Linked DNA regions of Homo sapiens: region 1 is linked to region 2. A link means that fine-mapping ties the variant in region 2 to the expression of a gene that starts in the linked region. Tissue or cell type: whole blood. Region 2 holds a variant in brackets; the other region holds the start of a gene. All regions are shown on one strand. Distances are between the middles of the regions.

Evidence for each region. PIP is the estimated chance that this variant, and not a neighbour inherited with it, causes the effect.
Region 1: AKR1A1 starts here. The variant in region 2 is fine-mapped to the expression of AKR1A1 in whole blood (INTERVAL, PIP above 0.99).

What each region holds. Positions count from the first base shown.
Region 1 is chr1:45,542,627-45,558,897 of GRCh38, forward strand. It overlaps AKR1A1 (aldo-keto reductase family 1 member A1), which reads left to right and starts at 8,200. Exons shown (of 9, transcript NM_153326.3): 1 at 8,200-8,529. RefSeq lists enhancers at 1,065-1,214, 1,235-1,284, 7,883-7,942, 7,993-8,222, 8,453-8,672 and 3 more and a silencer at 2,341-2,390.
Region 2 is chr1:45,513,674-45,529,944 of GRCh38, forward strand. It overlaps PRDX1 (peroxiredoxin 1), which reads right to left and starts at 8,211. Exons shown (of 6, transcript NM_181697.3): 1 at 8,156-8,211; 2 at 5,265-5,381; 3 at 1,981-2,134; 4 at 1,200-1,322; 5 at 834-964. The coding sequence starts at 5,370. RefSeq lists a silencer at 7,405-7,567 and enhancers at 8,610-8,689, 13,381-13,889. The variant C/CA (reference allele first, on the strand shown) is at 4,794.

The DNA.
Region 1 (16,271 bases), 29 kb after region 2:
AAGGGCACCACTATGTACCTAGCACCCAGGAATGTTTAACCTTTACTCACGTTCTGCCTGGAGAAGGAAGCCAGGCTGCAATGCAGGGATCTGGCTCCTGAACTCTGTCAAGGCTGAGGCAGGGCTGGATAAGAAATCTCTACCCCCATGTCAGGCTTGTGACCAGCCTCCTCCCTCATCTTGCACAACCTTGATCCAGGGGCAGGAACTGATACACTGGCCTTTGGAAGCCGTAGGACTTTGAACTTCGTTGAACTTCGGAGCTGAAGGGCTGAACAGAGCTGGTGCCAAACCCACTTTTAGTAACCCCATAGTTTTTTTTTCCCCCCACTTAACAACATATCAAAGACATTTTTTCCACAACAATACTTACATATTTACTTTATCCTTGTTGTGTCTGTATTTATCACATGGATGCACAACAATTTATTTTGGATATTCCCTTCCTACAAATATTTACGTAATATGTTTTAATTTTTTTATATTAAAAATATATTTTAAAAATAGAGACAGGGTCTCGCTATGTTGCCCGGGCTGGTCTCAAACTGCTGGCCCCAAGCAATCCTCCAATCTTGGCCTCCCAAAGTGCTGGGATTACAGGCGTGAGCCACCACGCTCAGCTGATTTGGGTAATCTAAACAACACAGTAAACAGCCTTGTCCCTTTTCTATTATTTCCTAAAACTAAGTTCCTTACAATTGCTGAATCAGAAGGGATGGACATTTAACATTTTCATATATATTATCAAATTGCCTTATATATATGTTTTCTTTTTCTTTCTCCTACTTGTATTTTGAAGTATATATATTTAAATTTGTAATACTTTTTTTTTTTTTTTTTTTTTTTTTTTAGAGACAGGGTCTTGCTTTGTCATCCAGGCTGGAGTGCAGTGGCACAATCATAGCTAACTGTAACCTCAAACTCCTGGGCTTCAGTGATCCTCCCACCTCAGCCTCCATTGTAGCTAGGACTACAGGTGCACAACACCTCTATTTTTGTAGAGACAGGGTCTCAGTATGCTGCCCTGGCCTCATGTGATCCTCCCACCCAGCCTATGCTCCCTTCTTATCAAACCACATGTAGTTCCTGGAATGTAACATCCTGCTTCATTCCTCCACAACTTGGCACATATCAATTCCTCTGCTCAGACTACCATTCTCCAGCTTCCTTTAACTCCCTTCCCAACAACAGTCTATTTTTCCAAAAAACTCCTGGCACATGGTAGATATCATTAAATATTGGTCAGTCGAATGAATAAATCAATCACTTCTACCCACTTTTAGCACAGAGCAGCCTCTGTGGGTGACATGTGCAACAGAAGACCGTAAAATTAGGAAATGCAGTTGACAGGGGAAATCCGCACCGCCATATGACAGGCTGTCTGCTTCCGTCAGCGGTTATTCCCTTGCCTGCCTGCCCTAGCCCACACCACTTCCTCCTCTTCCCCCCACCCCCGACTTTCCAGTCCCAGTCCATTGGTTTCAGTTGGCTGCAGCCTCCTTTCCACCACTTCACTGCAGCATTGATCTTTGTAACTGCCATAATAGAACTGATTCCTACCCTGATATAACTATAGCTTCTATGCCAACAGCTGTAGCTCTACATAATCATGTGTGTGCATGTACAGGTGTAAGTGTGCTTGCATGGGTGCATGAGTGTATATGTGCGCATGCATGAGAGAGAAAGAGACTGCAACCCTGTGCAGAGTCCTCCTCCTCTATTCTGGAGTTCTGTCTCTGTCAGGGATGGGTGGCAGTTTGTAGTAGTTTCACTTGAAGGGGTAGGAGAAGAGGGAACAGTTTTCCTATTTCAACCTAGCTTGCAGCAGCCTATTTTGAATATAAATAATAATCATTACCACTCATTAAATCTCTATGTACCACCAGGCACTTTACATCCATTGTTTCATTTAATCCCCAAACAACTCAAAAAAGTAAGCATGGCCAGCTTGGTGGCTCATGCCTATAACTGCAGCACTTTTGGGAGGCCAAGGTGGGAGGATCGCTTGAGCCCAGGAGTTTGAGATCACCTGGGCAAATATAGTAAGACCTCGTCTCTACAAAAAATAAACAAAATTAGCTGAGCACGGTGGTGGACAGTTGTAGTCCCAGCTACTTGGGAGGCTGAGGTGGGAGGATTGTTTGAGCCTGGGAAGTCAACACTGCAGTGAGCCGTGATCATGCCACTGCACTCTAGCCTAGATGATAGAGTAAGACTCTGTCTCAAAAAATAAATAACATATATTTAAGAAATTAAGAATTTTGCTTTGGTGCATAATCAGGAAAAAAGCAATAAATGGTTCTGAGGACCAAGTCACTCTGGTGGGATTGGGGATTGGAGCTCAGATCCCAAAAGATGAGGTAGCTGACTGCATAATGCAGTCCCCAGGGCCTGGTGCCAGCCTTGCTGGCTCTCAGCAGCCACTTGAATGGGACCACAGGATTTGAGGGGCCTGAGAGGGAGAATAATGCCTCAGTGCACAGGCCCAGGGCCATTTCCAGTAGCTACCTGTGTAGGGACTTTCACTACTTGGGGGAAATGAGTCAGGTCTTGTGAAGTTGGTTTCAGAGCTGGCCAGAGTTTAGGAATGATTCGGCCCTAATAGGGGATTAGAAGGAACTTAAATATGTTCCTTAAATGTGCGCTCATTACAATGTCACTAGAAGGTCCACGCATAAAGTCAAGATCTTGTTCAGGCCCCCTTATCGCCCTGCTTCGTATATGGGTCCTCTGGGAACCTGAACTCTGTTCTTCATTCTCATTCAGACAGCCTAGCCTACAGTAAGCAGGAAGTGCCAGCAAATAAGTCACTGGGGTAGCTCCGGGACAAACTCAGAGACTTGGACAGCAGGCATTTATTTCTTCATCTCTTCTACCTGGCCACATTCCTCTTAGGGTCTAGAAACCCCTGCCAAATGCTAAAACGTTCAGTGAGGGGTGCTGAGAACTTAACCTTTCCCTCCCTCCTGCCTAGTTGTCCAGAAAGGGATGCTCCCTTCTCCTTCCTAGACAGCCATTCTCACTTTCTAGCTCTTCATCTGTTTCAGCCTCCTCTGTCGCCACACAAGGCCAACCCTGCACACACACATAGGTATGCATTCTGCCTGTTCTACATTAGCCCCTCTGGACTGTGAACCTTGAAGGCAGAGAACAAGGCTGGTCCTTTTTTTTTTTTTAAATTTTTGTGATGAAATCTCACTCTGTCACTCAGACTGGAGTGCAGTGAACAATCTTGGCTCATTGCAACCTGCACCTCCTGGGTTCAAGCACTTCTCCTGAGTAGCTGGGATTACAGGTGCCTGCCATCACACCCGGCTAATTTTTGTATTTTTTGTTTGTTTGTTTTGATTTTTGTTTTTCCGTCGGATTTATTTCCTCACATTACAGCATACTTTTCATATGAGCCTACACATATCAGATGGTAACTCTGGAATGGGTGAGTCTGTGACACTGACCCAGCACAGCTGTGAGGGTGATGACAGGCAGGTTAGCAGGTGCGCACAGAGGGGCTTTCTTCTAAATTGGAGGTCAGGTTAGATGATTCAGCTCCGCAGAGCTCATTCAGTGCTCCGTCTTCTGGTGGCTTCCCTTGATTTCTAATAAAAGCTGCAGATGGAGTCACTCAGTTCCACATGGCTGGGGAAGCCTCAGCAAACTTACAATCAAGGTGGAAGGCACCTCTTCACAGGGTGGCAGGAAAGAGAATGAGTGCCTAATTTTTCTATTTTTAGTAGAGATGGGGTTCCACCATGTTGGCCAGTCTCGTCTCAAACTCCTAACCTCAAGTGATCTTCCCACCTTGGCTCCCAAAGTGCTGGGATTGCAGGTGTGAGCCACCGTGCCCGGCCAAGGCTGGTCCATTTTTGTGCCCAGTGAAAGGACTAGGACATAGTATATGCTAAGTAAATGTTAGCTAAATGTATGATCCATGATCCCCCCCACAATTATCCCATTATTTTTTTTCTTTTTCTTTTTCTTTTTTTTTTGAGACAAGAGTCTCGCTCTGTCACCCAGGCTGGAGTGCAGTGGCATGATCTTGACCCACTGCAACCTTCACCATCCAAGTTCAAGGGATTCTCATGCCTCAGCCTCCAAAGTAGCTGAGATTACAGGCGTGCACCACCATGCCCAGTTAATTTTTTGTATTTTTACTAGAGATGGGGTTTCACCATGTTGGCCAGGCAGATCTTAAACTCCTAATCTCAAGTGATCCACCCGTCTTGGCCTCCCAAAGTGCTGGGATTACAAGCTTGAGCCACCGCGCCCAGCTTCCCTCCATCATTTTCTCCACTTTCATATCTCCTGTCTCTTCCACTGGACCCTTCCCCGCTGCTTAGCACGTGGTCATGCTCGCATTTCCCACATAGTGAAAAACTCTCCCTCCATCTGCATCAAGTCACTATTAACCCATAACTTTTCTTCCTCTTACTTTTTTTTTTTTTTTTGAGACAGGGTCTCACTCAGTTGCCTAGGCTTTGTAGTGGTGGGTGCGATCACAGCTCACTGCAGCCTTGGCCTCCCAGGCTCAGGTGATCCTCCCACCTCAGCTTCCCAAGTAGCTGAGAACACAGGTGCATGCTACCATACCCAGCTAATTTTTGTATTTTTTGTAGAGATGGGATTTCACCATGTTGCCCAGGCTGATCTTGAGAACCCCTGGGTTCAAGTGATCTGCCTGCCTTGGCCTCCCAAAGTGCTGGGATTACAGGCATGAGCCACTGTCCCTGGCCTTTACTGTATCCTTGAGAAGTCCTTCCTCTGATTCTCCATGTCTTCATCTCCTGTTCATTCCTGAATTCAGGTCATCTGGCTCAGGATTAACCATTCCACTGAAGGAGCTCTCCACATTGGTCACCAATGATCTTCATGTCCACCAAATCCAAAAGTTTCTGCTGTGGATATCAGACAACATGAATATAAAGACTATGGTAAGTAGTGGATGCTCAATAAAGTGGTTGTTCTTATATTCTTATTTGCTCACTTCTGTTTTTTTGTTTTTTAAAAATTATTATTTATTTTTGAGATGGAGTCTTGCTCTGTCGCCCAGACTGGAGTGCAGTGGCACCATCTCGGCTCACTGCAACCTCTGCCTCCCAGGTTCAAGCAATTCTCCTGCCTCAGCCTCTCAAGTAGCTGGGATTACAGGCACCTGCCACCATGCCCAGCTAATTTTTGTATTTTTAGTATTGATGGGATTTCACCATGTTGGCCAGGCTGGCCTCGAACTCCTGACCTCAGGTGATTGGCCCGCCTCGGTCTCCCAAAGTCCTGGGATTACGGGTGTGAGCCACCACACCTGGCCTGTTTGTTTTTAGACAGGGTCCTTGGTAAAAAGAATTTGAGGGGAAAAAAAAAAAGAGACAAGGTTTTGCTCTGTTGTCTAGGCTGGAGTAGAATGGCACAATCATGACACACTACAGCCTCGAAGACCTGGGCTCCAGCAATCCTCCCACTTCAGTCTCCTAAACACCTGGGACTATAGGTGTGCACCACCGTGCCCAGCTAATTTTTATATTTTTTGTAGAGATGAGGTTTCACTATATTGCCCAGGCTGGTCTTGAACTACTAGGCTCAAGTGATCCTCCCTTCTTAGTCTTCCACAGTGCCGGGATTACAGCCATGAGCTACTGTGCCTGGCCTGTAGGTTCTTCTTTTACGTATTTTTTTTTTTTTGAGACGGAGACTTGCTCTGTCACCCAGGCTGGAGTGTAGTGGTGCGGCTCACTGCAACCTCTGCCTCCTGGGTTCAGGCGATTCTCCTCCCTCAACCTCCTGAGTAGCTGGGACTGCAGGCGCGTGCCACCATGCCCAGCTAATTTTTGTATTTTTAGTAAAGACGGGGTTTCACCATATTGGCCAGGCTGGTCTCGAACTCTTGACCTCGTGATCTGCCCGCCTTGTGCTGGGATTACAGGCGTGAGCTACTGCGCCCGGCCCCTTTTTTTTTGAGACAGAGTTTTGCTCTTGCTGCCCAGGCTAGAGTGCAATGGCACAATCTTGCCAAACGCAACCTCTGCCTCCTGGGTTCAAGTGATTCTTCTGCCTCAGCCTCCTGAGTAGCTGGGATTACAGGGATGTGCCACCTCACCTGGCTAATTTTGTATTTTTAGTAGAGATGGGGGTTCTCCATGTTGGTCAGGCTGGTCTCGAACTCCTCACCTCAGGTGATCTGCCTACCTCGGCCTCCCAAAGTGCTGGGATTACAGGCGTGAGCCACCATGCCTGGCCTATTTTATTTTTTTTTGAATACAGGCTGGAGTGCAGTGGCGCGATCTCAGCTCACTGCAACCTCCGCCTCCCTGGTTCAAGTGATTCTGTTGCCTCAGGCTCCCAAGTAGCTGGGATTACAGGCTCGCATCAATACATCCAGCTAATTTTTTTTTTTTTTTTTTTTTTTTTTTTTTTTTGAGGGGCAGTCTCGCTTTGTCAAGAGGCTAGAGTGCAGTGGCTCGATCTCGGCTCACTGAAACCTCCGCCTCCCGGGTTCAAGCGATTCTCCTGCCTCAGCGTCCTGAGTATCTGGGACTACAGGTGCGCGCCACGACGCCTAGCTGAATTTTTTTTTTTTTTTTTTTTGAGATGGAGTTTCACTCTTGTTGCCCAGGCTGGAGCGCAATGGCGCAATCTCAGCTCACCACAACCTCCGCCTCCCAGGTTCAAGCAATTCTCCTGCCTCAGCCTCCCGAGTAGCTGGGATTACAGGCATGTGCCACCACGCCCGGCTAATTTTGTATTTTTAATAGAGACGGGGATTCTCCATGTTGGTCAGGCTGGTCTCTAACTCCTGACCTCAGGTGATCCGCCTGCCTCGGCCTCCCAGAGTGCTGGAATTACAGGCGTGAGCCACCGCACCCGGCCAAGTCTGATTGTTTTTATGAGGATGGCCTGATACATTAGACATTTGGTCCACCAGGACATCACTTATGTTGGGGAGACAGTGGGGGATAACGGGGGTGGGGAAATGGGAAGAGTTGCTCTCAGGGAGTAAAGGTGTGGGGAAAAGCAGAGCCAAACCGAGATAACCCTGTGTCTTGCCCATCCCTGCCAAGGAAAACACATACATGCAAGACACCTCTCCACTCAAACAGCACAGACTATTTCAAATCGCAGATGTGTCATTTAATTAATACCTGTGTGACTTTGGGAAAATTATAAATAGCCTTAACCTTGCTGAGTCTGTCCAATCTGTAAAATGGATTATGAATACTTTCCTCACAGGCTTATGGTGTGCTGGTAATATCTTCCTCTGGATGGCAGTTACATTGCAAAAAATAATTTAAAAAAAAGAACTGTATACATTTAAGATTTATACATTTTCTTTCTTCCTGGATGTAGAATAGGAAAAAAAGAAAAAGAAAAAAAAAAAGACTGGTGTATTTTCTGTATATATGCTATACTACGATTTTTAAAAAGGCTTGTACGAAATAAAAGAATATTCCTTTTCGGCCAGGCGCAGTGGCTCACTCCTGTAATCCCAGCACTTTGGGAGTCCAGGGCGGGTGGATCACGAGGTCAGGAGTTCAAGACCAGCCTGGCCAAGATGGCGAAACCCCGTCTCTACTAAAAAATACAAAAAAATTAGCCAGGCGTGGTATCGGGCGCCTGTAATCCCAGCTACTCGGGAGGCTGAGGCAGAGAATTGCTTGAACCAGGGAGGCGGAGGTTGCAGTGAGCCAAGATCGCGCCACTGCACTCCAGCCTGGGCGAGAGCGAGATTCCGTCTCAAAAAAAAAAAAAAAAAAGGAATATTCCTTTTCCAGGATTATTATGAAGATTCAATAAAACCATGTTTATTAAGTGTTAAGCACAGTGCCTGGCACATAACGTGCTGGGCGGGGTCTATGGTCCAGACAGGGGGACCAGGCACTTTCCAGCGCCTGGATCTGCAGACGCGAGGTCTTCTGTATTCTGGCCAATCTTGGTGTTGCAGCTGCTCTCTGGGCCTCAGTTTGCTTGAACTAAATGTAACGGGGCCAACTTAGGTGAACTTTGGGAATCCAGCCAACCTGACTTTAGGGAGAGTATGGAGCCACGGATGGCATTGTGAATCCGGAGGGCCGACACCAGAAGAACCTGCAACGTGGCATCTGCTACCTTACTTCCCCCGGAAAAGCGCCTGCGGCGGCGCCTAGGCGCGCGGTGCAATGTGGGCCAGCAAAAGGCGAGGCTGGCCCCGCCCCTTGCACCGCCCACGTGGCCAGCGCCACCTGCCTCATTGTGCCCAGGAGTTCTCCAAACCCGCGCTGCGGAGTGAGTGACCAAGTTCCGGCCAGTTCGACCTCGAGGATCCAGAGGTGGAGACGGTACTACCTCCCAGCTCTGTTTTCCATCCCCTTCAGGTCCTTCCTCGGGAGGCGGCGAAGGCGGTCCACCCTGCGCGTGATCCTTTATGCCCGGCCCCTGCCCCTCCCTCCGGGTGGAACTTCCCCCTCACCGCCAGACTTAAGCTGAGGATCGTTGGATCTCTGGCGGGGTGCAGAACTGAGCCCAGGCCACAGTACCCTATTCACGCTCTGTGCTTGTGCCAAGGTGAGTTTCTCTTGCTGCTGGCCTATCTTTCTCCCGGAGGAGATGGCCTCGATTCTTTACTACTGAAATGTAAGCCCCTGGGGTTGAGTGGAGAGCGCAGAGCACTGGAGGGGACGAGACTTGGTTTCGGATTTGAGCTCTTCTTTTTCTCTGTATGATCTCTTGCTAACTTCCCAGTTTCTCTGAACCTGTTTCCTCAGCAATAAAATGAGGTCCTACATTAGAACTGTAGCAAGAATTGAGATAAAGCTTTGAAGGCGCACAGCGCATACTAGGTGATCTGCAAGTTTTAATTGCCATCTTTTTGTTTGCTCACCTATGTGCTTTTTCCAGCTGCTCCGGCTTTCTTATGCAGGTGCAGGGATAGTTCTCAGAAGTGGGGAGAAGTGGGGATAATTCTCTTACTTAGACACCTGCTTTGGGTCTGAGAAAGTCTGACATGTTATTCTGTTGCCCCAGAACTCTGTTAAAGTAAGACACAGATCTGAACCTTCACTGGATGAGGCTACTGTTAATTAACTCTTCCCCTTCAGATCGTTCATACTCAGGGCTGCAGGCCTGTTACTTTTCCAAGATCTGTTTCCTTATCTTTAATACAGGAGCAATCTCAGTATGATTCTATCTGGTCCACTGGGATTTTTTGCCGAGTATAGTAAAGTGCTTTGATATTCTCCAAGAGGATTCTTTTCAGGTTTTCCAACAGGTAAAGGAAGAAGGTGACAGAGGCAGCGACTTCCTCAAATGTCCTTCCAGCTGGCCAAACTCAACCTGTCAAGATCTCTCCCCCATAAGCTGTGTGTGTGTGGTGTGTGTATTGTGTACATTGTATGTATGTATGTATGTATGTATGTATGTATGTATGTATGGGACAGGTACTCTAGGAGTGAGGGGTTCAGGCAGATGACAGGCTCAGACCTCAAGGAGTAGCCAGGTTTGTGGGGGAAATTTATATATAAACAGAAAAATGTAGTGATGTGCACATGCTATCAGTACATGGAAGTAGCCATCCATTTATTTATTTATTTATTTTCTTTTTAGAGATGGATGGGGGTCTCTCGGTCTTTTGCCCATGCTGGAGTGTAGTGGTGGAATCCTTGCTCAGTGCAGCCTCAAACTTCTGGGCTCAAATAATCCTGCCACCTCAGCCTTTGGACTATAAACTACATGCCACTGTGCCCAGTTAATCTTTAAAATAAAAAAAAAAAAATTCCCCCTAGCAAGCAGACTCAGAAAGAAAAAAACAAATTTTTGTAGAGACAGTGTTTCCTTTTGTTGCCCAGGTTTCAAGTGATCCTCCCGCCTCAGCCTGCCCAGGTGCTGAGATTACATGTATGAGCCACTGCACCTGGAAAGGAGCCAGAAATGTGAAGTGCTAGCTGAAGGATGAGCAGCAGCTAGCCAGGCAAAGGTAGGGTTTGGGGAAGGAAAGTGCACACACCTAGAGTCAGGTAAGTGATGTGACCCTGTTGAGTGTTCAAAGTCTGGAATACAGTCTGACATGAGGAGGTGGTGAAATGAGAAAGATAGAAGCCAGGTTTTGAGAAGCCTGGACTTTATCCTGAATATAGGGGAGAATTGCTGGAAGGGTTTGAGACTGGGAGTCACATGGTTGGATCTGGTGATGGACTGCGGGAAGAGGGACCACTCTGGAAGCCAAGATCTGTGGTTTAAGTAAAGAGTGATGGTCAGCTGGGCACAGTGGCTCATGCCTGTAATCCCAGCACTTTGGGAGGCCAAGGTGGGTGGATCACCTGAGGTCAGGAGTTCGAGACCAGCCTGGCCAACATGGTGAAACCCTCTCCGTACTAAAAATACAAAAAGTAGCTGGGTGTGGTGGCACACACCTATAATCCCAGCTACTGGGGAGGCTGAGGCAGGAGAATCACTTGAACCCGGGAAGCAGAGATTGCAGTGAGCCGAGATCATGCCACTGCATTCCAGCCTGGGCAACAGAGTGAGACTCTGTCTCAAAAAAAAATTTAAAAAGGCTGGGCACAGTGGCTTATGCCTATAATACCAGCACTTCGGGAGGCTGAGGCGGGCAGATCACGAGGTCAAGAGATGGAGACCATCCTGGCCAACATGGTGAAACCCCGTCTCTACTAAAAATACAAAAATTAGCTGGGTGTGGTGGCATGCGCCTGTAGTCCCAACTACTGGGGAGGCTGAGGCAGGAGAATCGGTTGAACCTGGAAGGCGAAGGTTGTAGTGAGCCGAGATCACACCACTGTACTCCAGCCTGGCGACAGAGCGAGACTCTGTCTCAAAAAAAAAAGAGTGGTGGTGGTCAGAGATGGGGCAGTGGCAGTGGAGGTAGATATGGATGGACTAGAGAAAGATTTAGGAATATATATTTTAAAATTCTTTTCACATACATCAAGAAGTACAGGAAGCATTATTGCAATCTTAGGTCTTAGGTTACATATTAGAGCATTCTCTTTTTCTGTAGCTATTAAGTATTAACAAGATTTAAAACCCAGCTAAACTGACAAAATCTGGCCAACATTACATATGTAAGGTGATTTTCCAAGCTGGCTTTTCTAGAAGTATAGGAGAGGCCGGGTGTGGTGGCTCATGCCTGTAATCCCAGCACTTTGGGAGGCTGAGGTGGGCGGATCACGAGGTCAGGAGATCGAGACCATCCTGGTTAACATGGTGAAACCCTGTCTCTACTAAAAAATACAAAAAAATTAGCTGGGCATGGTAGCGGGCACCTGTAGTCCCAGCTACTCGGGAGGCTGAGGCAGGAGAATGGCATGAACCCGGGAGGCGGAGCTTGCAGTGAGCCGAGATCACGCCACTGCCCTCCAGCCTGGGTGACAGAGCGAGACTCCGTCTCAAAAAAAAAAAGAAGTATAGGAGAAAGCCAGGTGTGGTGGCTCACACCTGTAATCCCAGCACTTTAGGAGGCCAAGGTGGGAGGGTCACTTGAGGCTAGAAGTTTGAGGGGGCAACACAGTGAGACCCTATCTCTACAAAAGAAAAATAAGGCCAGGCATAGTGGCTCACACTTATAATCCCAGCACTTTGGGAGGCTGAGGCAGAAGGACCACTTGAGCCCAGGAGTTTCAGACCAGCCTGGGCAACAAGGAGAAACCCTGTCTCTACGAAAAACACAAAAAATGAGCTGGACATCGTGGCCCATGCTTCTAGTCCCAGCTACCTGGGAGGCTGAATGGAAAGGATAGCTTGAGCTTGGGAGGTGGAGTTTGCAGTGAGCTGAGATCACACCACTGCCCTCCAGCCTGGACGTTAGAGCGAGACTCTGTCTCAATAAATAAGTAAATAAATAAGCTGGGTGTGGTGACATGTGCCTGTAGTCCCAGCTACTCGGGATTGCTCCAGTCCAGGAGTTCGAAGCTGCAATGAGCCATGAATGGGCCACTGCACTCCAGCCTGGGCAACAGAGTGAGACCCTGTCTCAAAAAGAAAAGTACAGGAGAAAATACTCTCCTCACCAACTACTTATCAAAACCATAATCTGATAATACTCATAAATGCCTGCAAGGAACTACAAATACTTTCTTTAGATGGCTTTTATTTATTTATTTTTTAGACAGGGTTTCAGTCTGTGGCCCAAGCTGGAGTGCAGTGGTGTGATTTCAGCTCATTGCAACCTCTGCCCCCCAGGCTCAAGGGATCCTCCTGCCTCAGCCCCCTGAGTAGCTAGGACCATAGAGACACATCACTATGCCTGGCTAATTTTCATATTTTTTGTAGAGATTAAGTTTTGCCATGTCCCCCAGGCTGGTCTCGAACTCCTGGACTCAAGCAATCTGCTTGCCTCAGCCTCCCAAAGTGCTGGGATTAACAGGCATGAGCCACCACACGCAACCAGATGTTTTTTTTTAAGGCCCAAATGGATTATACTATCAACATGTTGTCTGGTTTGCTTTAACACTTGTTATCCAGGGCTTTGGTCTTTTGGTGAGATAGAGTACAAAGTCAACACTCTATCCACAAGTTGTGCATCTGCGGATTCAACCTAGAATCAAAAATACTTGGGAACAAAAACCAACTTTAAAAATTCAAATAAAAAAATACAGTATAGGCCGGGCGTGGTAGCTCACGCCTGTAATCCCAGCATTTTGGGAGGCCAAGGTGGGTGGATCACCTGAGGTCGGGAGTTCGAGACCAGCCTGACCAACATGGAGAAACCCTGTCTCTACTAAAAATACAAAATTAGCCAGGCGTGGTGGCGCATGCCTGTAATCCCAGCTACTCGGGAGTCTGAGGCAGGAGAATCACTTGAACCCAGGAGGCGGAGGTTGCGGTGAGCCGACATTGCGCCGTTGCATTCCAGCCTGGGCAACAAGAGTGAAACTGTGTCTAAAAAAAAAAAAAATTATAACACCTATTTACCTAGCATTTAGCATTTATATTGTATTAGGAATTATAAGTATTTAGAGTTGATTAAAATATACAGGAAGATGTACTTAGGTTTATGCAAATACTATGCCATTTTATATAAGGGACTGGAGCATCCCAGGATTTTGGTATCTGAAGGGGTCCTGGAACCAATCTCCTGTGGATACCACGGGATGACTATACAGAAAGAAGAGCATGGGTTAGGCCCTGTGCAAGGTGCTTTAGATATAGTATCTCTTGAAAATATCAGAACTGAGATTCAAACCCAGGTCTGCGTAGCCCCACAGCCTAAACTGTTTCCTCTGTACTCTACTGCTGGATTTGATGAGTACAGTTTTGGACATGGCGAATCTCAGATGCCTATACATACTAGTGGAGAGGTCCAGAGGGCGTTGAATATACAGAAGTGGGGTGAGAAGAATCAAGGCCTAAGGCGATAACCGAAGACATGAACTCAACTAGGGAATGAGAAGATTGAGGAGAAAACCCTGAAGGGACCTTTCCTTTGCCTCCCACACCAGCATATGTGGGAGCCAGAGGAGAGGCCCATGCAGCTAGGAAACACTCATGTAGATATTGTTTCCTTTTTTTCCTGTGTCTTCTACTTCCCTGCAGCCAGGCAGCAACTGTAGAGCCCTTTGAGAAAGAAAGAATTCAACAGAGGGAAGGAACCTAGGCATTGAATTGGAAATAATAAAACCTGATTCCTGATAATACCCTCCTCCCCACTCAACCCACACATCTCTCTTTTACACTTGAATATAACATGAAGGTTTCCGCCGGGCGCGGCGGCTCGCGCCTGTAATCCCAGCACATTGGGCCGAGGTGGGTGGATTGCTTGAGGTCAGGAGTTTGAGACAAGCCTACCCAACATGGTGAAACCCCGTCTCTACTAAAAATACAAAAAATTAGCCAGGTGTGGTGGTGGGCGCCTGTAATCCCAGCTACTCTGGAGTCTGAGGCAAGAGAATCACTTGAACCTGGGAAGTGGAGGTTGCAGTGAGCCAAGATCGTGCCACTGTACTCCAGCCTGGGTGACGGAGCAAGACTCCGTCTTAAAAGAAAAAAAGGATAGCCGGGCGCAGTGGCTCACGCCTGTAATCCCAGCACTTTGGGAGGCCGAGGTGGGTGGATCACAAGGTCAGGAGTTCGAGACCAGCCTGGCCAATACAGTGAAACCCCGTCTGTACTAAAAATACAAAAATTAGCCGAGCGTGGTGGCGGGCGCCTGTAGTCCCAGCTACTCGGGAGGCTGAGGCAGGAGAATCGCTTGAACCTGGGAGGTGGAGGTTGTGGTGAGCCAAGATTGCGTCATTGCCCTCCAGCCTGGGCAAGAAGAGTGAAACTCCATCTCAAACAAAATAAATAAATAAAGTAAAAGATAGGCTGGGCACAGTGACTCATGCCTGTAATCCCAGCACTTTGAAAAGCTGAGACTGGTGGATCACCTGAGGTCAGGAGTTCAAGACCAGCCTGGCCAACATGGTGAAACCCTGTCTCTACTAATAATACAAAAATTAGCTGGGCGTGGTGGCACATGCCTGTAATCCCAGCTACTGGGGAGGCTGAGGCAGGAGAATCGCTTGAACCCAGGAGGTGGAGGTTGCAGTGAGCCAAGATCGCGCCATTGCACCCCAGCCTGGGTGACAAGAATGAAACTCTATCTCAAAAAAATAAAAATAAAAAAGATAACATGAGGGTTTCTGAATGCTGCCAAAGGTCCAGATAGGCAGTTCCTGACAAGCTCAGAGTCTGGAATCTGTTCACGCACAGCTAGGCTGGAAAGCAGTTGTATCAAGCAGAAGATGAGGAAGTCAAGAGCTGGCCGAGGATGATTTTCTGTCCTAGAGAAAAACATCTATGTGGCACCTTCATTCTTCCCTAGGGAGCTCTTGTTCTTTGCAGATCTCCTCCATCTTTCATCCCTGTTCCCCAAGCCTCAGCCTTTTCGGTGTTCAGTTTCACCAGCAAAAGAAAGGGAGAAGCAAGATTCAGGTTTCTTCTTCCTTTTCCCCTTAAGCCAGGGTGTTGTTCAAGCTCTCACCCCAGGTGTAATTTCAGAGCCTTCTCATGCGTGCTGGGTAATCTGCGAGAGGCCAACAGGTCATTGGGCATTAAGCCCAGGAAACCTGCCTTAGACCCTGGTGGCAGCAGGCCACCAGGTTCCTCTTGTCAAGTCCAGACTTGCTTGCTTGATCCCTTGGAAATTTGATTATAAAGAGCATTGCCCTGGTAGCTTGTGGTTTGACACTCAGATTGAAGTTTTGATTTTGTTTTAGCAGAAAAGAGTGGTTTCCAAAACCAACTTAAACTAGACTATAAAATTCTTCCTGGGTCAGAAGTATTAGGAAAGACAGTGTTGGTGTACTGGCTTTACTCACAACTTGTCTTTTTTTTTTTTTTTGAGATGGAGCCTCACTCTGTATCCCAGGCTGGAGTGCAGTGGCATGATCTCAGCTCACTGCAACCTCTGCCTCCTGGGTTCAAGCGATTCTCCTGCCTCAGCCACCCGAGTAGCTGGGATTAAGGTGTGCACCACCATGTCCAGCTAATTTTTGTATTTTTAGTAGAGAGGGGGTTTCGCCTTGTTGGCCAGGCTGGTCTCGAACTCCTGACCTCAAGTCTTAAGTGATCTGCCTGCCTCGGCCTCCCAAAGTGCTGGGGTTACAGACGTTAGCCACTGTACCCAGCCTCAACTTGTCTTATTATTATTATTATTTTTTGAGACAGGGTCTCGCTCTGTTACCCAGACTGGAGTGCAGTGGCACTATATCAGCTCACTGCAACCTCCGCCTCCCGGGTTCAGGTGATTCTCATGTCTTGGCCTCCCAAGTAGCTGAGATTACAGGCATGTGCCACCACGCCCAGCTAATTTTTTTTTTTTTTTTTTTTTGAGATGGAGTCTTGCTCTGTCACCCAAGCCGGAGTGCAGTGGCTCAATCTCGGCTCACTGCAACCTCCACCTCCCGAGTTCAAGCGATTCCTCCTGTCTCAGCCTTCTGAGTATCTGGGACCACAGGCATGTGCCACCATGCCCGGCTAATTTTTGTATTTTTAGGAGAGACGGGGTTTCACCATGTTGGTCAGGCTGGTCTCGAACTCCTGACCTCGTGATCTGCCCTCCTCGGCCTCCCAAAGTGCTGGGATTACAGGTGTAAGCCACCAAACCCGGCCTAATTTTTGTATTTTCAGTAAAGATGGGGTTTCGCCATGTTGGCCAGGCTGGTAATACCCTGACCTCAGGTGATCCGTCGCATCGGCCTTCCAGAGTGCTAGGATTACAGGTGTGAGCCACCACTCCTGGCCACAGCTTGTCTTATTACTTGCTCTATCCTACATCCTTTTAGAACCTGGAAACTAAGATTATATTTATA
Region 2 (16,271 bases):
AACTCAGGGTTAAATGGATTAAGGGCTGTGCAAGATATGCTTTGTTAAAACAAATGCTTGAAGGCAGCATGCTCGTTTTAAGAGTCATCACCACTCCCTAATCTCAAGTATCCGGGGACACAAACACTGCGGAAGGCCACAGGGACCTCTGCCTAGGAAACCCAGGTATTGTCCAAGGTTTCTCCCCATGTGATAGTCTGAAATATGGCCTCGTGGGAAGGGAAAGACCTGACCGGGGTCCCCCAGCCTGACACCCTGTGCTAAGGAGGATTAGTAAAAGAGGAAGGAACGCCTCTTTGCAGTTGAGACAAGAGGAAGGCATCTGTCTCCAGCCAGTCCCTGGGCAATGGAATGTCTCAGTGTAAAACCCAATTGTATGTTCCATCTACTGAGACAGGGGAAAACCGCCTCAGGGGTGGAGGTGGGACATGCGGGCAGCAATACTGCTCTTTAAGGCATTGAGATGTTTATGTGTATGCACATCTAAAGCACAGCACTTAATTCTTTACCTTGTTCATGATGCAGAGACCTTTGTTCACGTGTTTATCTGCTGACCTTCTCTCCACTATTATCCTATGACCCTGCCACATCCCCCTCTCCGAGAAACACCCAAGAATGATCAATAAATACTAAGGGAACTCAGAGGCCGGCGGGATCCTCTGTATGCTGAACACTGGTCCCCTGGGCCCCCTTATTTCTTTCTCTATACTTTGTCTACGTGTCTTTTTCCAAGTCTCTCATTCCACCTAACGAGAAACACCCACAGGTGTGAAGGGGCAACCCACCCCTTCATACCACCACTCTGTTGTCCTGTTATCAGACAGATGGCTTACCTTCCCCATGTTTGTCAGTGAACTGGAAGGCCTGAACTAGTCTCAAAGTCTCATCCACAGAGCGGCCAACAGGGAGGTCATTTACAGTGATCTGCCGAAGAATACCCTTATCATCAATGATAAAAAGGCCCCTGGGAAAAGAGATGAAAGGAAAAGCAATACAGGTTTAGAGATGTGCTTTGTTAGAATACAGAGGCTTGAAGCCTGAAGGAAATGGACTGGTCTCCACACTCCTACTGGCCTGGCCTTAGTGAGGAGGCCCCTGCATAAAGGAATGAAATGACAAGGAGTCTCTACAGATCAGGGCTCTAGATCTCTCCAAATAAAAGGCTTTCAGCCAACTGGATACTTGTCCTGATGACATACCTGAACGAGATGCCTTCATCAGCCTTTAAGACCCCATAATCCTGAGCAATGGTGCGCTTCGGGTCTGATACCAAAGGAATGTTCATGGGTCCCAGTCCTCCTTGTTTCTTAGGTGTATTGACCCTATGGCAAAAGGCAAACATACAGTTACATTCAAACTCTTGACTTGACTGTACGCATTCCTCTTTCCCCTTTCCCATATTCCTAATCTAACTTTCCAAAAAGACTGTTTTTTTTCCGTTTTCCAGCAATAAAGTGAATGCTGAGAACAGTTAAGGTAGGTCACTAGGGTACACTCAACTGCAATTGAAGCTGCTTCTTCTCTGCTGCCAGGTCATGAGAGCAATAAGAGAAAGTCAGACTTTGCACTCCCTTCAATGAGAAGGCAATACTTGAAAGTCTATTGCCAAAGCTTCCCAGTTGCTGTTTTAAAAGTTCACATGCCAGCCAGGTGCAGTGGCTCACACCTGTAATCCCAGCACTTTGGGAGGCTGAGGTGGGCAGATCACGAGGTCAGGAGATCAAGAACATCCTGACTAACACGGTGAAACACCGTCTCTACTGAAAATACAAAAAATTAGCCAGGTATGGTGGCAGGCGCCTGTAGTCCCAGCTACTCAGGAGGCTGAGGCAGGAGAATGGCGTGAAACTGGGAGGCAGAGCTTGAAGTGAGCGGAGATCACACCACTGCACTCCAGCCTGGGCGACAAAGCAAGACTCCATCTCAAAAAAAAAAAAAAAAAAAAAAAAGTTCACATGCCAAATAGACCAAGAGATTTACCATGCTAGATGACAGAAGTGAGAATCCACAGAAGCACCAATCACTTGGCAGTTGAGTTTCTTAAATTCTTCTGCCCTATCACTGAAAGCAATGATCTCCGTGGGGCACACAAAGGTGAAGTCAAGAGGGTAAAAGAAGAACACAACATATTTTCCTGGGGGGAAAATCGGAGTCATGGTTAGCATTTGACACAGACTTCCTTGCTTTATATTTTCCTATACAAAAAGAAGCAAGTTGATGGCTGACACAATAACCACTAACTGCCAAGATGCTCAATACAGATGTCTCCTAGAAGCTACTTTTAGAACCTGGTGCATTAGGAATACCTGAATGAAAAAAACTTCCAATCCCATACTTTATTCTCCTGCCTCCATGTCATAGCTACCAATACAGAGTAAACACTGTTCAGTCTAATTTTGATCTTTTCTGAGTGGCTAAAATTAACATAAACACCAAGTTCTCCAAAGATAGCAAAAGCAAGGATGCACTTATAAGCATGGCCTAATGCCAATGCTTAACAATACCCAGAGAAAGCTGAATTGCAGTACTCCTCTGCTGTAGAGATAAGACACCAATAAGAAGTCACAGCCTTTGCACTTCTCCCGTGATGAACCATAGTAATGGAACAAGCATGGTTTAAGTGATCACATGTGTTCCTAACGTGCCTGACAGGACAGGAAAAATTTTAAGCCAGGCACAGTGGTGCGTGTCTGTAGTCCCAGCTACTTGGGAGGCTGAGGTGGGAGGATCCCTTGACCCCAGGAGTTTGAGGCCAGCCTGGGCAACACAGCAAGACTGTCTCAAAACAACAGAAATATATATATACATATACACAGAGAGAGAGAGAGAAAGAGGGAGACAGAGAGAGACAGAAAAGACAAAAGTACTAGTGAGTAACAGAACTTCTAGCTGCAATTTTAATGAAGTCACTGGGATTAACCACTGAAATAACAGATCTTCAAACTGGCCAGGCAGCCTTCTCGCCACACCCACCAGGCTTAAATACTAGAACAATTCCAAATATTCACTCATTTCCAGGTAGCAGCAATGTTTGAAAAGTCAAACAGGCTGGGTGTGGTGGCATGGTGGCTGACGTCTGTAATCCCAGCAGTTTGGGAGGCAGTTTGGGAGGCCGAGGCGGGTGGATCACCTGAGGTCAGGAGTTCAAGACCAGGCTGACCAACATGGTAAAACATGTCTCTACTAAAAATACAAAAATTAGCTGGGTGTGACAGCGGGGGCCTGAAATCTCAGCTACTGGGGAGGCTGAGCCAGGAGAATCACTTGAACCGGGGAGATGGAGGTCGCAGTGACCTGAGATCATGCCACTGCACTACAGCCTGTGCGACAAGATCAAAATTCCACCTCAAAAAAAAAAAAAAAAAGCCAAACAAGCAGCCCTTTTTGACATTTACCACTTTGCAGTATCACTGGAAACTAACTCATCTAAACAACCCTTCCAGCTTTGCCTAACAAGCACTTTGGGGCCTCAGCAGGTCAAGCTCTGGAGGGCAGAGAACAGCTCCTCCTAGACCTCCTGCTTATACCCCTGGGCCCAGGTCACCTCCCTATGGTGCAACTTACCTTGTTTGCTGGGAGAAGCCCCAAGAACAAAGTGTGATTATGTCAGGAAACCTAGTCAAATGTTCTACCAAAAACTAACTCCAGGGACTAATGCTACACCACTGAGAAAAGGACACTTGACACCTGAGTTTCAGGTTAGCATTCTAAGGAATCTATATCCTCAACTGTCCCAGGAGATCGAGCTGCTCTGGAACTACAAGGTAAAGAAAGGAGGAGCCTCAACAGAACTTGCCAAGTGTCTGCATGAAACTATGACAACAGAGGCCGGGCGCAGTGGCTCACGCCTGTAATCCCAGAACTTTGGGAGGCCAAGGCAGGCGGATCACAAGGTCAGGAGATCGAGACCATCCTGGCAAACATGGTGAAACCCCGTCTCTACTAAAAATACAAAAAAATTAGCCAAGCATGGTTGCGGGCGCCTGTAGTCCCAGCTACTCAAGAGGCTGAGGCCTGAGAATGGCATGAACCCAGAAGGCGGAGCTTGCAGTGAGCTGAGATCGCACCACTGCACTCTAGCCTGGGCGACAAAGCGAGACTCCGTCTCAAAAAAAAAAAAAAAAAAAAAAACTATGACAACAGAAAGGAGAGTTGTTCCATCTGTAATATCAACTCTCCTCCGGGGTCAAAACAGGCAAGGGAAAGTGCCTAGCCCTCAGCCTAATATTAACAGCTGTGATATATACGTGACCCAAACAAACTGAACGAGCAGTGTCACAGCTCCAGAGATTTGAGTGAGCTCTGAGACTTTAAATGTAGAATGTCTCTTATAACAAGAGATAATGAGTATTTCTCCAATAATAAAATAGAGGAGGGCCAGAGGCAGTGGCTCACACCTGTTATCCCAGCACTTTGAAAGGCTAGGGCAGGCAGAGGGCTTGAGCCCAGGAGTTGGAGACCAGCCTGGGCAACATGGCGCCCAGCTCTACAAAAAGTACAAAAATTAAGCCAGGCGTGGTGGCTCATGCCTGTAATCCCAGCATTTTGGGACGCCGAGGTGGGCGGATCATCTGAGGTCAGGAGTTCGAGACCAGCCTGACCACCATGGAGAAACCCCGTCTCTACTAAAAATACAAAAAAAAATTAGCCAGGCATGATGGCGCATGCCTGTAATCCCAGCTACTCGGGAGGCTGAGGCAGGAGAATTGCTTGAACCTGGGCAGTGGAGGTTGTGGTGAGCCGAGATCACGCCATTGCACTCTAGCCTGGGCAACAAGAGCAAAACTCCATCT[C/CA]AAAAAAAAAAAAAAAAAAAAAAAGTACAAAAATTAGCCAGGCATGGCAGCATGCCCCTACAGTCCCAGCTACTTGGGAGGCTGAGGTAGGAGGACCACCTGAGCCCAGAGAGGTAGAGGCTGCAGTGAGCCATGACTGCGCCACTGCACTCCAGCCTGGGTGACAGAATGAGACCCTGTCTCAAAAATAAAAATAAAGAAAGAAAATAGACGAGGAATACTGAAAAGATAATTGAGCTAGTATGTCCAGACATAATGAAGCATGTGGTTTCTCCAGAAGTGGTTTGGTCCTAGGATATATACCCTGTAATCACTTGATAATCACCACTTCAACATGAAGGTAACAACCTAAATACTTCTTCCTAGGAGACAAAACATTTTACAGTCAAACAACATTGACACAAATCTAACAAGCCACCCCTAGAATATAAAATAACTCCATCTCAATGAGCCCAGTGTTAATTCTCTCACCTTTGTAGTCAGACAGGCTGATATCTTTAAACTGACCATCTGGCATAACAGCTGTGGCTTTGAAGTTGGGGGCAGGGTGCCCAATTTTAGCATTTCCTGAAGACATCTTCCTATCAGCTAGAAATAACAGAAATGAATTAGAAACAAGCCTTAATTTTCTACATAACCAGCAGCCTTCACCTACTTAAAGAGACTTAGCTGTAAACAATCAAGGCATTGTCCAGTGTCCCTGAATACATTAAATGTTGTTTTAGTAAGAAGCTCCAGCCAGCAGTCAAGGGTCACAGTCTGAGCTTTCCAACTTTTGGAACGAAACAAGTCTCTGAATCTCAGCCTTTGTTTTCATTTAAAAACAGCAAGGCAATTTCTTTATATACTGAGATAACCTCTCATTCTTTCTGAACCATAATTAGTGCAGTGGCATCTTATTCATTATACAGAAGCAGAGAGAGAGGCAGATGAAGACTCTCAAACCAGAATCCAAATGCACAATGCCACAAACACTTTTGTTTGGCTCCCCAAAAGTCACGTTGACCTTTCCCATCACTGTGCCTCCACCTGCCTTCATAACATCAGAAGCATATTTGACTTTTCTCCAGGTAGCTTTGTCCAAGACAGCACACAACCTATAACTAATTCAACTTGTTTTATTTGTTTTTGTTTTGTTTTGTTTTTTTGACGGAGTTTCGCTCTTGGGGCCCAGGCTGGAATGCAATGGCATTATCTCGGCTCACTGCAACCTCCACCTCTCAGGTTCAAGGGATTCTCCTGCCTCAGCCTCCATAGTAGCTGGGATTACAGGCGCAGGCCACCACACCCGGCTAATTTTTTTGTACTTCTATTAGAGACGGGATTTCTCCATGTTGGTCAGGCTAGTCTCAAACTCCTCACCTCAGATGATTGCCCAACTCAGTCTCCCAAAATGCTGGGATTACAGGCGTGAGCCACCGCGCCCTTCCAGTCAGTCCAACTTTTAAGAGGCAAGACCACTGGGCGCAGTGTCTCACACCTGTAATCCCAGCACTTTGAGAGGCTCAGGCGGGCGGATCACCGGGTCAGGAGTTCGAGACCAGTCTGGCCAACATGGTGAAACCCCGTCTCTACTAGAAACACAAAAATTAGTCGGGCGTGGTGGTGCATGCCTGTAATCGCAACTACTCAGGAGGCTGAAGCAGGAGAATCACTTGAACCCGGGAGGCAGAGGTTGCAGTAAGCTGAGATCGCGCCACTGCACTCCAGCCTGGGCAACAGAGTGAGACTCTGTCTCCAAAAAAAAAAAAAAAAAAAAGAGGCAAGACCAAGATATTGATTGGCATCTGCTTAATTTCAAATCTTTAGGTATTGTGTAAGCCCTAGAATTCCCTTCACCATTTGTGAAGGTGGGTTCCTGACTTTGGGGCTAATATCCCAGGGCGAAAACAAGTATAAGAATCAATTTACTGCTGAAAAGGAAGGTTGCACTGGATTCACCCAGATCAACACCAAGATTAGTATTGAGATCTTGGCCAAGCGCTGTGGCTCAAGCCTGTAATCCCAGCACTTTGGGAGGCCGAGGCAGGCAGATCACCTGAGGTCAGAAGTTCGAGACCAGCCTGGCCATCATAGTGAAACCCCGTCTCTAACAAAAATACAAAAAATTAGCCGGGGGTGGTGGCACGCGCCTGCAGTCCCAGCTACTCGGGAGGCTGAGGCAGGAGAATGGCGTGAACCCGGGAGGCGGAGGCTGCAGTGAGCCGAGATCCAGCCACTGCACTCCAGCCTGGGCGACAGAGCGAGACTCCGTCTCAAAAAAAAAAAAAAAAAAAAAATACAAAAATTAGCCGGGGCTTGGTGGCACAAGCCTGTAATCCCAGCTACTCCTAAGGCTGAGGCAGAAGAATTGCTTGAATTCGGGAGACAGGGGTTGCAGTAAGCCGAGACCGCGCCACTGCACTCCAGCCTGGCCGACAGAGCGAGACTCTAGCTCAAAAAACAGAGATTTAACCCACTAAGCCGCGGTCTGAAAGCTTTTCCAAGTCCCAAAGTTCTTAGTTCACAATACCACAAGCAAAAGAAATTTTGTAAGCATGGATCTTAGCAAACTTTTAACTGTTTTTTAAAAAGTCCTTAACACCTTTAACGACAAAAAACAAAAACCAAAAACTAAGGCATGCTGCAACTTGGTGCCCCCAAATGGCCTTCTCGTCCAATCCTTCTTTCCCAAGTGGCCCCCAAGTACAAAACCCAACCAATTCGGGGTAAAGGCTGCTGGGATTCAGGCCGCCACCGGGCCCCTTCAGGGGATCTGCCCAGCGTAGAGGGCCACATCCCTAAACCCCACTTCAGGTGCCCCCTGTCCCTCCCCAGCACTGGAGAAAGCACCAGCAGAGAGAGTGCTTCAGCGGGGACATTTGGGCTCATCGCTAACTCCATTCCACGTACAGGAAAATAAAGACGGGGAAAGGGTACCCGAAGCTCCGCAGCTAGTCAAGGCTCAGGACCCGGAACAGCCAAATACATAGAGGCTGTCTTCTACAGCCACGAGTCTGGATACAGGTCCATTCCAGAAGCTTCCCGAACCCACCCCGTCCGGCAGGAGGCTAGTCTCGGAGACCCCCACCACCAGCCCGCCCAGACGCCGCGCCACGTGCTCGAGTTGCCGGGGGAAGACTCGACTCGAGTCCACGCTTGCCTTGGGGTTCAACCAGGTTCCCGCACCTACGTGGGGGGCCCACGAGAGGGGTGTGCGCAGCGCTCAAGCAGTCTCGGACTCCGGGCCTCCCCCGGCTGCCTCACGCATCACAGCACCCCCACCCGAGCGCGGGCGGGCCCCGGACAGGAGGAGGAAGAGGCAACAGGCAAGAAGGGCGCGCCGCGCCTCACTCCGCAGGGGCCGCACTGCCCACACTCACCAGTCCCAACACAAGTCGCAGAAACTAACCACCGACACCAGGCAAGAACAAGACGCGCAAGAGCTCTCCGGGGCGCTGCCTTTATAGCCAGTAGGGATCTCGCGAGAGTCGGAACGGACGGGGGTGCCGGAGGAGGAGAGAGAGGAGGGGGATGTGGCCCGAGCCCCGCCCGGCGCGCCCCGCCGGAATGACTCGGCGCTTTCCCTCGTTGGGGCGGGTGCGGAAAAATACTAATACCCCACCCTGTTGCGGATGGCTGAGGTTGGAGTGAGGCGCCCTTGTGGCCGCTCCCGAACCCGAACGCTTAGGTTAATCCTAGATCTCTGCGGAAAACCAGGATTCTCTTTACTTCCAGGACCACTACGCACTGTGCCCTCAATGCCCAAACTGGAGTAAGCGTCTTAGCTGCTGCCCACGGAGGACCACGTCTAACCACACCAAGCCATGAGAACTGTCTATCCAAATATTTCTTAAGTTCGCAGCCTTAACCCCAGCGCAGATCCTCAGTAACCCTCATGGCTTAGATAGCTTCCTTCATTGTTCTCTTTAATTACAGGGTTGCTGCTTTCTGTTGTAAAGGAAAATAAAATATCAGGACTCCTAAACTTACGCCAGAGGGAAAGTTCATCTTGGGAGGCTGATTCAGTTACACGACCATCCTCTCCCCGGATGAATAATTTGACTTTACAATCTTGAGTCAAAACATTACACATTAGCCAGACCCACACGGTAAGGCAAAAGGCCTCAGACATTTCCTGATGACTACCCCCCACAAACACACATACACAAAATCATAATTAATTATTTGCTCCCCTGGAAACCTTTAAAGTATGTAGCCTCCCATAAAACAAGGACGTGTCAATTGCAACTAGATCTACAATATAAAGTCTAGTTCCTAAAACTAAAGTTTGTTCTATTCCACATTTTTTTGAGACGGAGTCTCACTCACCCTGTCGCCCAGGCTGTAGTGCAGTGGCACGGTGTTGGCTTACTGCAACCTCCACCTCCCGGGCTCAAGCGATTCTCCCGCCTCACCTCCGGAGTGTCTGGGACTACAAGCACGCACCACCACGCCCAGCTAATTTTTTGTATTTTTAGTAGAGACGAGGTTTCATCATGTTGGCTAGGCTGGTCTCCAACGCCTGACCTCAGGTGATCCGCCCGCCTTGGCCTCCCAAAGTGCTAGGAATGTAAGCGCGAGCCACCGCACCTGGCCTCTATTCCACAAATTCCATAAATGTTCACTACTAGATTACCTTTCTACTAGACTACTTTCTACCTTTCTAGTAGTACCTTACTACTAGATTACCCTGAGTCCACCACATAATTGTTTTCTTCCTCCATTCCCTTTTTCTTCAAACATTCACCTTATCTTATGTAAAAATGTAGATTTAGGCCACCTAGGAGGGCGGATCATAAGGTCAGGAGATCGAGACCATCCTGGCCAACATGGTGAAACCCTGTCTCTGCTAAAATACAAAAACTTAGCCGAGTGTGGTGGCGCGCCTGTAGTCCTAGCTACTTGGGAGGCTGAGGCAGGGGAATCGCTTGAACCCGGAGGCAGAGGTTGCAGTGAGCCGAGAGCACCACTGCACTCCAGCCTGGCAACAGAGCAAGACTCCGTCTCAAAAAACAAAACGTAGATTTCCTGAGCATTAGCTAAAGTCTTTGCCTCAATCTTTCCCACCCCCACTTTTCAAGGAAAATGTATAAATACTAAAAACCTCCTGAGAACCTCTTGGGAAGAAACAGCCACAAAAGTGTCTGTGACATGGTTTAGTCAGTTTAGTCACTCATTTCAATTAACACTATCTCTTATCCATCCCTTCCACTGCAGCTGAAGGAAATCTTTCTGAAGTCTGATCATGTCACTGTTATTCGTGGTTTAAAAGCTGGGGAAGAAACAGCCACAAAAGTGTCTGTGACATGGTTTAGTCAGTTTAGTCACTCATTTCAATTAACACTATCTCTTATCCATCCCTTCCACTGCAGCTGAAGGAAATCTTTCTGAAGTCTGATCATGTCACTGTTATTCGTGGTTTAAAAGCTGGGGCTAAAGAAAGAAAGAAAGTAAAATTTAAAAAGAAAAGAAAAATAAAAAATAAAATAAAAGCTGAGGCTCTGTAGTCAATTTACTGAGTTAAAACTCCTCACTGTCAGGGCCGGGCGCGGTGGTTCATGTCTGTAATCCCAGCACTTTGGGAGGCTGAGGAGGGCAGATCACCTGAGGTCAGGAGTTCGAGACCAGCCTAACGTGGAGAAACCCCATCTCTACTAAAAATACAAAATTAGCCACGTGTGGTGGCGCATGTCTGTAATCCCAGCTACTCTGGAGGCTGAGGCAGGTGAATCGCTTGAATCAGGGAGGCAGAGGTTGCAGTGAGCTGAGATAGCGCCATTGCACTCCAGCCTGGGCAACAAGAGCGAAACTCTGTCTCAAAAAAAAACACACACACACAAACACAAAAACTCCTCACTGTAATTTTAGGTGTGAACTTGGGCAAGTCTTAAACTCATTAAACCTTACTTTTCTCAACTGTAAAATGGGAATAATATTAATACTTTATTGTGATTATCTATGTAGTTCAGTACAGTACTTAGTTCTTATTATAAATTAGAAATGTTAGCTGCTATTAGTATAACTCTTCCATCCTTCACACTTATAACACCCAGAACACAGTGTAGTTGTTTCAAGCCTTCAGACTTTTTTTTTTAAGATGGAATTTCGCTTTTCTTGCCCAGGCAGGAGTGCAATGGCACGACTTCTGCTCACTGCACCCTCCACCTCCAGCGTTCAAGCAATTCTCCTGCCTCAGCCTCCCAAGTAGCTGGGATTACAGGCGCCCACCACCACGCCCGGCTAATTTTTTGTATTTTTAGTAGAGACGGGGTTTCAGTATGTCAGCCAGGCTGGTCTCAAACTCCTGACCTCAGTTGATCTACCTGCCTCAGCCTCCCAAAGTGCTGGGATTACAGGAGTGAGCCACTGAGCCCGGCCGCCTTCAGACTTTTGTTTGAACCTGGAAAACTCTTTCCCTGGAGAAAACATGTCTTTCAGCATTACTTTCTCTCCGGCTGTTTCTTACCTTTACTCATTCCCAGGATTTACAATTCCCCTCCTTTGTGTCCAAACAATAGCTTGTATAGCCAAAAAAATCTTTTAAGCAATTTTAGTTTTACATTTCTTCCTCTGCCTGCTAGAGTGACTTTCTGGAGAGTAGGATGTGGGTGACATCTGTCTCTGTGTCCCCAAAGTCACAACAAAGCATCTGATATAAAATAGGAGCTCAGTCAGTGAGCATTCAATCAATAGTATCATGTTTCTGTCTCTGTCCCCAGCTCCCTCACTAACTCCCTTGGCCCTTATAGTGGGATAATGAATGAGGAAGTGCTGTCTCATGCTCATTGAGCATCTCAATTTTTGTTATTTATCATACTACTTTGCATAGACGTGATTTATTTGCTTTTTCCTTCTTTGCCTGAGGCTGAATAGTTAGTTGGCATTATTCCTTTTTTTAATTTTTATGTAACTTTTATTCTTTTTTATCAGGCAGCCACCCGAGCCAGCAGCCAGCGTAGGCTCAGAGAGACTCCCCTTTCTTTCTTGCAGGAGCAAGGGCAGCATGAAAGTTCAGAGCTTAATAATGGATGGTTATTGGCTATGGGCAGGCTAAACCAATACACAGTACATACAGTCATACTTCAGCCCAAAGAAAATTGCCACCTATTGTATTCACCATATGCCAGGCATTGGGCTGGGCACTTGAGTTTATTTTTCTAATTCAAGAACAAGGCCAGGCACGGTGGCTCATGCCTGTAATCCCAGCACTTTGGGAGGCTAAGGCGGGCAGATCACAAGGTCAGGAGTTTGAGACCAGCCTGGCCAACATGGAGAAATCCCATCTCTACTAAAAATACAAAAATTAGCTGGGTTTCGTGGTGTGCACCTGTAGTCCCAGCTACTCAGGGGGCTGAGGCAGGAGAATCTCTTGAACCCAGGAGGCGGAGGTTGCAGTGAGCCGAGATCGCGCCACTGCACTCCAGCCTGAGTGACAGAGTGAGACTCCGTCTAAAAAAAAAGAACAAAAGCCGGGCATGGTGGCTCAAGCCTGTAATCCCAGCACTTTGGGAGGCCAAGGTGGGCAGATCATGAGGTCAGTAGTTCCAGACCAGCCTGACCAACATGGTGAAAACCTGTTTCTACTAAAAATACAAAAATTAGCTGGGCGTGGTGGCAGGCACTTGCAATCCCAGCTACTCAGGAGGCTGCAGCAGGAGAATCACTTGAACCCGGGAGGCAGAGGTTTTAGTGAGCTGAGATCCCGCCACTGCACTCCAACCTGGGCAACAGAGCAAGACTCTGTCTCAAAAAAAAAAAAAAAGAAAAAAGAAAAAAAGAAAAGAAAAAAGAACTAAAAGAGAGTGGAGCACATTTGGCATGTGACTATAGTCCCAGCTACTTGGTAGGCTGAGGTGAGAGGATCACTTGAGCCCTGGAGTTTGAGCCCAGCCTAGGCAGTGCTGCAAGAACCAGTCTCTAAACAAACAAAGAAAAAAAAACAGGAAAAAAAAAGAGTTATCCTAGCCTAGAGAAATGTTAACAGTCTATCCCCTTAAGATCATAAAAGTGAAATAACTGGACAGAGTACTGAAAAAAGAAGAAATCTGTTGAACAAGTCTAAGTGATTTGTAGAGTCTCTCCAAAGGACAGTAAAGATTTCAGAACCATGGGGAGGAGGCTTTCTTGCAGGGTCTGATGTATACCTCTAGTTCTATTTTTAGATATATTCCATTGTGCTCTCTTCATTTGCTCACCATTAGCATGGGAATTATTCCCCTTGTTTTATTTATATTTGTAGTAACAAGTCTAGCACAGTAACTGGCATAGAAGTACTTAATAAATGTTACAATGTGTTGAAGACTTTTGAGATGTAGAATTAAATTATTTGAACTACGTTTCAGGAAGTTGACTCTGGAAGCTGTGTGATGAATGAATTTAGTGACTAGGAGATTAGGCAAAGAGAGCAATTGGGAGGCCACGGCAATGATCCAGACAAGAGAAGTCTCAGAACTGTAATATGACATTAGCAGCAGGGTAGAAAGAAGGAAATACAAGGTATATTTCTTCAGGCTTTAGGATTAATTGGATTTAGGATGAAAGGAAAGAGTAAATTAAATCCAGTTTCTTGGTGACATGAGTGATGTCATTAACCTGTGACATAGGAAACACTGGAAGAAAAGCAGGTTTGAGGTTTAAAATAATGTTAAACAGGCCGGGAGCGGTGGCTCACGCCTGTAATCCCAACATTTTGGGAGGCCAAGGCAGGAGGATCATCTGAGGTCAGGAGTTCGATATCAGCCTGGCCAACATGGTGAAACCCCGTCTCCACTAAAAACACAAAAATCAGCTGGGCATGGTGGTGGGCACCTGTAGTCCCAGCTACTTGGGAGGCTGAGGCAGGACAAGTGATTGAACCCGGGAGGCGGAGGTTGCAGTGAGCCAAGATGGCACCACTGCACTCCAGCCTGGATGACAAGAGCGAGACTCCATCTCAAAAAAAAAAAAAAAAATGCCGGGTGTGGTGGCTCATGCCTGTAATCTCAGCACTTTGGGAGGCCGAGGCAGGTAGATTGTCTGAGCTCAGGAGTTCAAGACCAGCCTGGGCAACATGGTGAAACCCCGTCTCTGCTAAAATACAAAAAAAAAAAAAAAAATTAACCGGGTGTGGCAGTGTGCCCCTGTAATCCCAGCTACTTGGGAGGCTGAGGCAGGAGAATTGCTTGAACCCAGGAGCAGAGGTTGCAATGAGCCAAGATCGCACCACTACACTCCAGCCTGGGCAACAGAACAAGACTCCGTCTCAAAAAAAAAAAAAAGCAGTAGTTACATCACTGCACTAATTTGCTGTGGGAGACAGTTACCTGACTCATCAACAGCCATTGTCTCTTCTTCACAGCCAACTAAATGTAAAAGGTAAGGCAATTCAATGTAAGTATAAAGCCCATGTCCCAGGACAGCAATCATTTTAACAGTAGGACTTGCTAACCTGATAGCAGCCTGCTATAAACTTATAAACCATTAAAATTAAACCTATAAACCATGAAACTAAATGCTCTCAGATAATTGTAACAACAAATGCAAAATAAAATAATGGACGCCGGGCATGGTGGTGCATGCCTGTAAAGCCAGCACTTTGGGAGACCGAGGTGGGCAGATCACTTGAGCCCAGGAATTTGAGATCAACCTGGACAACATGGCGAAACTCCATCTGTGGGGGAAAAGCAAGAGAGATCAGATTGTTACTGTGTCTGTGTAGAAAGAAGTAGACATAGGAGACTCCATTTTGTTCTGTACTAAGAAAAATTCTTCTGCCTTGAGATTCTGTTAATCTATGACCTTACCCCTAACCCCGTGCTCTCTGGAACATGTGCTGTGTCAAACTCAGGGTTAAATGGATTAAGGGCTGTGCAAGATGTGCTTTGTTAAACAGATGCTTGAAGGCAGCATGCTCCTTAAGAGTCATCACCACTCCCTAATCTCAAGTACCCAGGGACACAAACACTGCGGAAGGCTGCAGGGACCTCTGCCTAGGAAAGCCAGGTATTGTCCAAGGTTTCTCCCCATGTGATAGTCTGAAATATGGCCTCGTGGGAAGGGAAAGACCTGACCGTCCCCCAGCCCGACACCCGTAAAGGGTCTGTGCTGAGGAGGATTAGTATAAGAGGAAGGCATGCCTCTTGCAGTTGAGACAAGAGGAAGGCATCTGTCTCCTGCCCGTCCCTGGGCGATGGAATGTCTCGGTATAAAACCCGATTGTACGTTCCATCTACTGAGATAGGGAAAAACCTCCTTAAGGCTGGAGGTGGGACATGCGGGCAGCAATGCTGCTTTGTAAAGCATTGAGATGTTTATGTGTATGCATATCTAAAAGCACAGCACTTGATTCTTTACCTTGTCTATGATGCAAAGACCTTTGTTCACGTGTTTGTCTGCTGACCCTCTCCCCACAATTGTCTTGTGACCCTGACACATCCCCCTCTCCGAGAAACACCCACAAATGATCAATAAATACTAAGGGAACTCAGAGGCTGGCGGGATCCTCCATATGCTGAACGCTGGTCCCCTGGGTCCCCTTATTTCTTTCTCTATACTTTGTCTCTGTGTCTTTTTCTTTTCCAAGTCTCTCGTTCCACCTAACAAGAAACACCCACAGGTGTGGAGGGGCAACCCACCCCTTCACCATCTCCACAAAAAATAAAAAATTAGCCCAGTGTGGTGGTGTGTGCCTGTGGTCCTAACTAGTCCAGAGGCTGAGGTGGGAGGATTGCTTGAGTCCCAGAGCTCGAGGCTGCAGTGAGCCGAGATGGCACCACTGTACTCCAGCCTGGGTGACAGAGTGAGCAGAGTGAGACCCTGTCTCAAAAAATAATAAAATAAAATAATGGGAACCCAAATCACAAGACAGCACTCATTTTTCTTTTATTTATTTTATTTTTTTTGAGACAGAGTCTTGCTCTGCTGCCCAGACTGGAGTGCAGCAGCATGGTTTCGGCTCACTGCAACCTCCACCTCCTGGGTTCAAGTGATTCTTGTGCCTCAGCCTCCCAAGTAGCTGGAATTACAGGTATGTGCCACCATGCCTGACTGATTTTTGTATTTTTAATAGAGACAGGGTTACGCCATGTTGTCCAGTCTGGTTTCGAACTCCTGGTCTCAAGGGATTCACCCATCTCGGCCTCTCAAAGTACTGGGATTACAGGCTGAGTCACCACTACCGGGCTTATTTTTCATACAGATGATTTAGAATATGTTTATGTTAAATTTTTTTAGATTATCACTAAAAGAAAACAGTTGAATTCTTCAATTTACAAGGATTCAATTTTTAAAATTATATTTGAATGTACAGAGGCCTACAAATACCAATTTCAGAAACACTGTTATCAAGGATATCTATTTGTTAAAATTGAATGCAACTGAAAGTAACAGATTAACTGCAAATAACAAGCTTAACCAAATAGGGGATTAATTTTTCCCATTTAACAAGGAGACAGGGCCGGGCACAGTGGCTCACGCCTGTAATCCCAGCACTTTGGGAGGTCGAGGCGGGTGGATCAC